2 linked regions of the Homo sapiens genome follow. The protein of the gene in region 2 interacts with the protein of the main gene of each other region in a biochemical or structural test. Each region holds a gene or a part of one and is shown on either strand. Other genes may lie near its edges.

Region 1 (3,844 bases), on a different chromosome or scaffold from region 2:
CTTTCTGATTCCTCCTATAAGTGTCTATTTAAGATCCTTCAAGCCATACTTTATTGACAGACTAAACTAAAACACTTTCTTTGAAGCCTTTGCATCTTTATCCTGTCAGTATACATTAGGAGCCCTTTAATCCATGGATGTGTGCATGCATGGTAATGGCATATCAAAAGTCCTTATGAAATTGTAGATGAAAAAAGCTGTTGGGCACACATCTTGTCTTTTCTTTCAAGATCAGAAAGCAATTATTTGTTTGAATTATTTTATATTCATATAAAGTTTTCACAGATGTCATAAAAATTAAAATTACACACTAAAGTTTTAAGAGCACCAGCACATACACATGGAGACGGTTTTTGCTATTTAAAAAAGATTTCCAAATTATCTATATGTATGAATATATACCCACATATATATATATACACACACTCAGACACACACACACATACACACACACCCAAGAAAGCCAAGCTTCTTTTTTTTGTCTTGCAACAAACACATAAAGCCCTGAAATTAGTGATTAATAAAGGAACAGCTACTGCAACTATAAACATAGTATCATTTTGGAAGCTGCAACAGAAAAAATATGCCACTTGCAATCATGAGGAATGGCTATGTTTACCTTCTTGGTTATCTTACTGATTCATAAGGTAATTATAAGAGATAGGACACACACTCTCACACATGCACACACACACACTATATATATATGTATACACACACACATACATATATGTATATATATACACACACATATATATACACACGCATATATATATACACACACACATATATATATATGTATATCTATATATATCTATATATCTATATATATATATGCAGGCAGGCCAAGAAGACAATGTGTTTCTGAATATCACTTTGTTAATCGGGAGCTCCTACAAAAGTTCCGACATCACCCATTATCAGTTACTTTATTCCTTTAACAAATTTTGACTTAGATCTTAGCAAAAGCAAACACAGGGGCATATCATTTGTAGTTGCAGACTGTGAACTCATCTGAAACCAATGCAAGCATTTTTACAGTGTGGCTTTCATAGCCAAGATTACCATGATGTTTACAGTTCTACTAGATTATCTGATAGTAGTCTGAATGATGAAAGAACAGGATACTGATGCATACAAGATATAACTATTAACCTTATTCATTATTTTTTAAATACTTGTAGCGAAAACTATTTGAATTAAGCTCATAGAATCCTGAAAAGCAAGACAACCGATGGCAAATAACAACTGCCCCAGACACAATACTAGAAAACTAAGGAACTTATTTTTGAATGCACAATTGGTAACAAATCTGAAGATAATACGCTAAATTCACAAGAATAGCACAGAATTGACTGTTCTTTTGTATTTTTTTCTTTTCTGTTTGTTTTAAATTTTTTTTGTTTTTAAGTTACACCTGATCACAAAGTCCAGAATATTTCTGTTCACACCAGCTTGTTTCAGTTTAGTATATTTCTTTCTGTCTACATTTATACTTACTGATAAATTCACTGTGATCAGGAAAACAAGTCAGGCATATTAAATACATATTAAGGAGTACATATTTTCCTATTTAGTATACAAAGTACTTCATAAATATGAATTATGTTACAAAAATAGCTTTGGGTGCGCTCACACAGTAAGCACTCTGCTTATTTTGGACAACCTTGAAGGATTGTGGGTGTTTCACGTAACTGAGAACAAACTCTAGTGTTAGTTTAATTTGAGCCATGTTTAATTCTGATAAACGTCACATATTTCTTCAGATCATCACAAATGCTATCTAACTCACGTTGATTTTTTCTTTTAGATTTTTATGTATAGACAGGTAATGCTTAAAGTGTTCAAATTTATTTTATAGTTATGTAATGTATGTTATATTTTAAACAAGTATTTGCACAAATTAACATTATAAATCCAGCGGTTTCAAGATGCAGGCCATAAAGGTTACCAATTTACAAATACTATCGAGTGTTCTCTCTTTGCATGCTTTTTTTTTTTTTTTTTTTTTTTTTTTTTTTTTTTTACTTTTCAGATAATCTTTACACGGAGTTGTTACAATGCCACAAATCAAAAGGATTATTCCAGTTCCACCAACTTAATCTACGTGCAAGATAAAGGACCCAGCTGGTACAGGTGTACCAGTTTTCTTGAGTTTGCTTTACAAAGCACAAAGAGACGAAGGTTTTGCATTGGGGTACAAAACAGATTTGCCTCTTGAGGTTAAATTCAGTATTATGTGTATAAAGCATCCCTTTGGCAATAGAGTTTGCAGTATCCCCACAGGACTCCACAGTATAGGTTTTATGTAGTAAAATCTATTAAACAAATTCTCTTCTACTTGACACATCTTTGCAGCTACAGTTAATGAGACACCCTTGGAAACACCTGCCTCCATGCCTATTGATAATATAGTATTTGGAAGTTAGAAGTCAACAAAAGGCACTTTCATCATTAAATAAATGTCCTCTGTATGAAGTAAGATTACATGACCTAGATCTTGTTCAAAGCTGTTTGCTCCTCAAGGACCTGTAGGTAGTCAGGGGAACTCTGCAGTTTCGCCTTCAGTTCAAAATACTCACTCTTCCTTTGTTCCACAACAATTTTACTGTGGTTGCCACCTATCAGTGACTTCTTACTTTTTTTGTCTGGTTGTTTTTCTGGATAGCGGATCTCAAAGCCACTGACACCTATGCTATTATACTCCTTTTTGCTTTCAAGAAAATTCTGAATAAACACATTGGAATCCCTGCTAGGGAATAATTCATCCAGCTCATCAATTGTGCTCAGTCTCTTCCTGGTATCTACATGTAATAAATCTTTCTCCTTGTCGGCCACATTTCTCATAACAACTTTCTGTCCTGGAGGATCTGAAAACATGAACCCAGTTTCTGACTCTTTCAAGCCACAAGTGTGGCTCTTGCTCATCTGTTCTATAGTTTGTGGAATGAAAGCTTCTGTGCTCAGTCCATCTTTTTTATTGGTTTTGTGGTCATGCTTCCTTAGCTGCAGCTGCATGGAGCCACAGTCAGGATTCCCCAGGCCTTCGTGCTTCACTGTGGGTTTCTTGTTGCGTCGCAGGACAAAAACAAGAAGGCAAAAAGCAACAAACACCGTTAAAATGAGGACCACTAAGATACTTAAGATTAAAATAGACAGAGGCACTGGCCCACCAGGAGGACTTCGAATGGGACCCAAAGGAGTGGTGAATGTAATGGCAGGTGCAGGGCTTGTGAATGGTGCAGACGGCTTATTTAAAAGTTTGGGACATAAGATTTCATTTTTGAGGGACTTCAGTTCAATGTTGGCAAACTGAACAGGCGTCTCACATTTCAGTTCTTTCACAACAATCCCGTCGCTCAACTTCTCCACCCACAGCTTTAATGCCACCAAGTCACAAGTACAGTCCCATGGGTTGCCCTCCAAGTCAATCTGTGTAAGAGATTGCAACTGATCAAGGACCCCGCTGACAGGCAGGTACATGAATTTGTTGTTCCTCAGGTTCAGTCTAGCTAAGGGTGCTCCGGAAAAGATGTAAACAGGCAGGCTCTTTAGGAGATTATTGTTTAAGTACAGTAACTGCAAATTTGGCATGGAGTCAAAGGTGCCTGCTGAGATTTCCTTAATCAAATTGTATTCCAAATACAGATACTGCAGGTTATGAAGACCTGAAAATATTTCAGGATAGAGTCTCTCAATTTGATTGCCATTGAGATATAGCCTGCGTAAATTAGTGAGATTGTGAAATACGTCTCCCTTAATCACTGTAATTTGATTGCTGCCTAAATGAAGCAAATCCAGTCCTTCAAAGTCAGTGAAGTCTGATACGTCCACATCCTTGATG
Region 2 (2,854 bases):
GTAGCTAGAATCAAAAATGTTGACATAAAGGTGCCAGGCTCCTGGAACCCCAGTTTCTGCAAAGGAGTTCTGCAGCCAGCTAAATGACAGTTTTCTGGGCTCTCATGTTTGGCACCCAAGTGACAAAGAATAGCTTAAATTCCAGAATAAAACTCAAAGACTTTTTTCTTTTCTTCCAGAGCCTTCAAATTCACTGTGCTCTTAGGTTTGCCTTCTTCTGACATATACTGAAGGCAGCTAAAATGCAGTTTTCCGCATAAACAGCTCCTCGTTGTATATATGCACAGGTACCTGAAGGGTATGTCTGGGAGACAGCGCCTCGGACTCTAAATCTGCAGGTAGGAAAAAACAAAACAAACCAACAAAAAAACTTAGGTTTACTGCCACCTTGTTTCAGAAACTTAGCTTTTGAAACTTTTTGTCTTAAAGCCTCCAATCAGTAATAAATGTGGGAAGGAAAACTCAAGAAAATGTCTGAATGGTTAATGAGTAAATCTTTTTGTGAAAGAGGTAAGGAAGGAGACTTTGAGAAATTCCCCCAAGCTTCTCTCTGGCAAGAAGAGGACATTGGTGGGATGCAGGCAGTGACCTCACTAGCAGGTTCAGCAAAGAATAGGAAACTGACGAGAGAGGCATCAAAAAGAATGGGAAACTTACAAGTGGGGCATCAAAGGAGAACCGTCCTCCCAGAGCCATGGGTAGCTGGGGTTCCTCCGAGACAGCCCCATCCAGAATGGAAAACTGGAATAGGAAATTGCTTGCTGGATGAAGTCCTGTGGGGAGTAATGTTTCTGAGTTTGTGGAATCCACATGGTGGTTTTAGAATCTGAAAGTCAGTTAGTGTTGGATCCACAAAACTAAAGAACCAAAAGGTATCTTTGACATCCCCTTGACTGTTTTACGGAAACACTTACTGAAGGCTAGAGATACTACAGAGCCTGTCCGTCCAAGGTCATACACAAAATTGGTGATCAGACTAAGCTAAAAAAACAGACATTTTGGCTCTCAAACAAGAATTCCTCCAGTGACAGTTTAAACCAGATTAATTTCCCTATCAACCAATACTCCACCCCAACAAATATCCATGAACACTCACCAGATCAGCTGTGCTATTAATTTTCAGCAACTTGGCATCCAAAGACAAGCACTTCTCTTGGCTCTTTTCCCAGTTAAATGAGCCCGAGGAAAATAGGTAACAGTTTTCTCCATGCCAGATCCAGTCTTGCGGACAAGGAGCTGGGAAGGATAGTATATCTCATCAGTCAGTTATGTTTGTGTAAAAGCAGTACTGCAGTTCTTAAATCAATGATCCCCTTAGTTCTCTCACGTGCATACTATTTATTTTTGTTTTTGTTTTTGTTTTTGTATTTTTAGTAGAGATGGGGTTTCACCATGTAGGCCAAGCCTCCCAAAGTAGTGGGACTATAGTCGTGAGACACCGCGCCCTGCCCACACTACTTCTTAAGTAAAATTTTACCCAGGTTCTGCAAATACCTAAATAGCCTCAGAGTCCTTATTTCTTCATTTTTTGGGAAAAAAAAGAAAGAAAGAAAGCATACTGATTTTAGCAACCTAAATGTACTTCTCATTTAGCATTTTCACTTCCCCTGATGAAAAGCAAGTTAAGCTAGCATGTAATTTTAGAAACTGATCTATTTTTTAAAGTTGTGTTGGAAATAAAGAAAGTGAGGGTTGGGAGAACAGATATTTAATAGCCATTCTGCTATTTTTAAAAAGTAATGCTATGCATTTTAAAATTTCATATCTTTGAATAATGAATCTAGGCTTAAATACTATGTGTCTTGCTTTCAGACATGTGTTGTCTAATACAGTAGCCATATGTGATTCTTGAGTACTAGAAATATAGCTAGTTTGCATTTCTTAAAACAAATTATTTTAATTGAAACAGGGTCTCGCTATGTTGTCCAGGCTGGTCTTGAACTCCTGGCCTCAAGCAATCCTCCTGCCTCAGCCTCCCAAAGTGCTGGAGTTACAGGCATGACCCACCACACCCGGCTAGTTTGCATTAAGATGTACTATAAGTGTAAAACACACAAAAGATTTTGAAAACTTAATTTGAAAAAGAAAAAGAATGTAAAATAGTCCATTAAAAATTTTTATACTGATTAGTATTGAAATAATATTTCAAATATCTTGGGTTAAATAAAATGTGTTTCTAAAATTAATTTTATCTGCTTCTTTTTCATTTTTATGTGGTTACTAGAAATTTTAATGATATATATATATATATATATAAAAAACACATACTATATTTCTTTTGTACAGAGTTGTTCTAGGGAAAATAGTATATTAATATAAAGCGAGGATCTCAATTTAAACGAGATTTTAGAAAATAAGGAGATTTTCAGTAGCAAAATTCACAGGGAGTCCACCAAACCAAAAACAGGACTTAGACAATAGGCAAAATATACCAATGTCTACATGTTTATGGATGCTTTCAGGAACCCTCAAATCATCACTATCATCACCATCATCATCATCATCTCTCCCATCTCCTTAAGGGGAAACAAAGTACTCTGGTCTACACTACAACCAAAAGGTGAAAAATTAAAATCTTTGAGAAAGGCAGCATTTTAATTTCATTCTCACTGTGGCATAAAACCACTAAATAAATGTATAAGAGTAGGCTTTATCAGAGAGGAGAAAATAGGAGGGACTGAAAAACAGAAAAAAGTGAATGAGAAAGAGCATACAAAACACTAAGTTGATTTTTCACCAAACTGATGCTTATGAAAAGAAAAAGAGACCAAGTTGAAAGCAGTCAATGCAAGCTTCTTACTTCTTAGTTTGCCTAACCCCATCATATTATGTAAATATAAATATATGTACGTTT

The links.
Region 1: the proteins of OLR1 (region 2) and SLITRK4 form a complex in vitro, tested with the Homo sapiens proteins (one large-scale study listed by IntAct).

Annotation. Positions count from the first base shown.
Region 1 is NC_000023.11:143,626,102-143,629,945, forward strand, and holds part of SLITRK4 (SLIT and NTRK-like protein 4 precursor), read right to left. Parts: coding exon 2,494-3,844; 3' UTR 1-2,493.
Region 2 is NC_000012.12:10,159,690-10,162,543, forward strand, and holds part of OLR1 (oxidized low-density lipoprotein receptor 1), read right to left. Parts: intron 1,237-2,854; coding exon 1,097-1,236; intron 827-1,096; coding exon of another isoform or gene 774-826; coding exon 658-773; intron 333-657; coding exon 191-332; 3' UTR 1-190. UniProt on the Homo sapiens protein: Receptor that mediates the recognition, internalization and degradation of oxidatively modified low density lipoprotein (oxLDL) by vascular endothelial cells.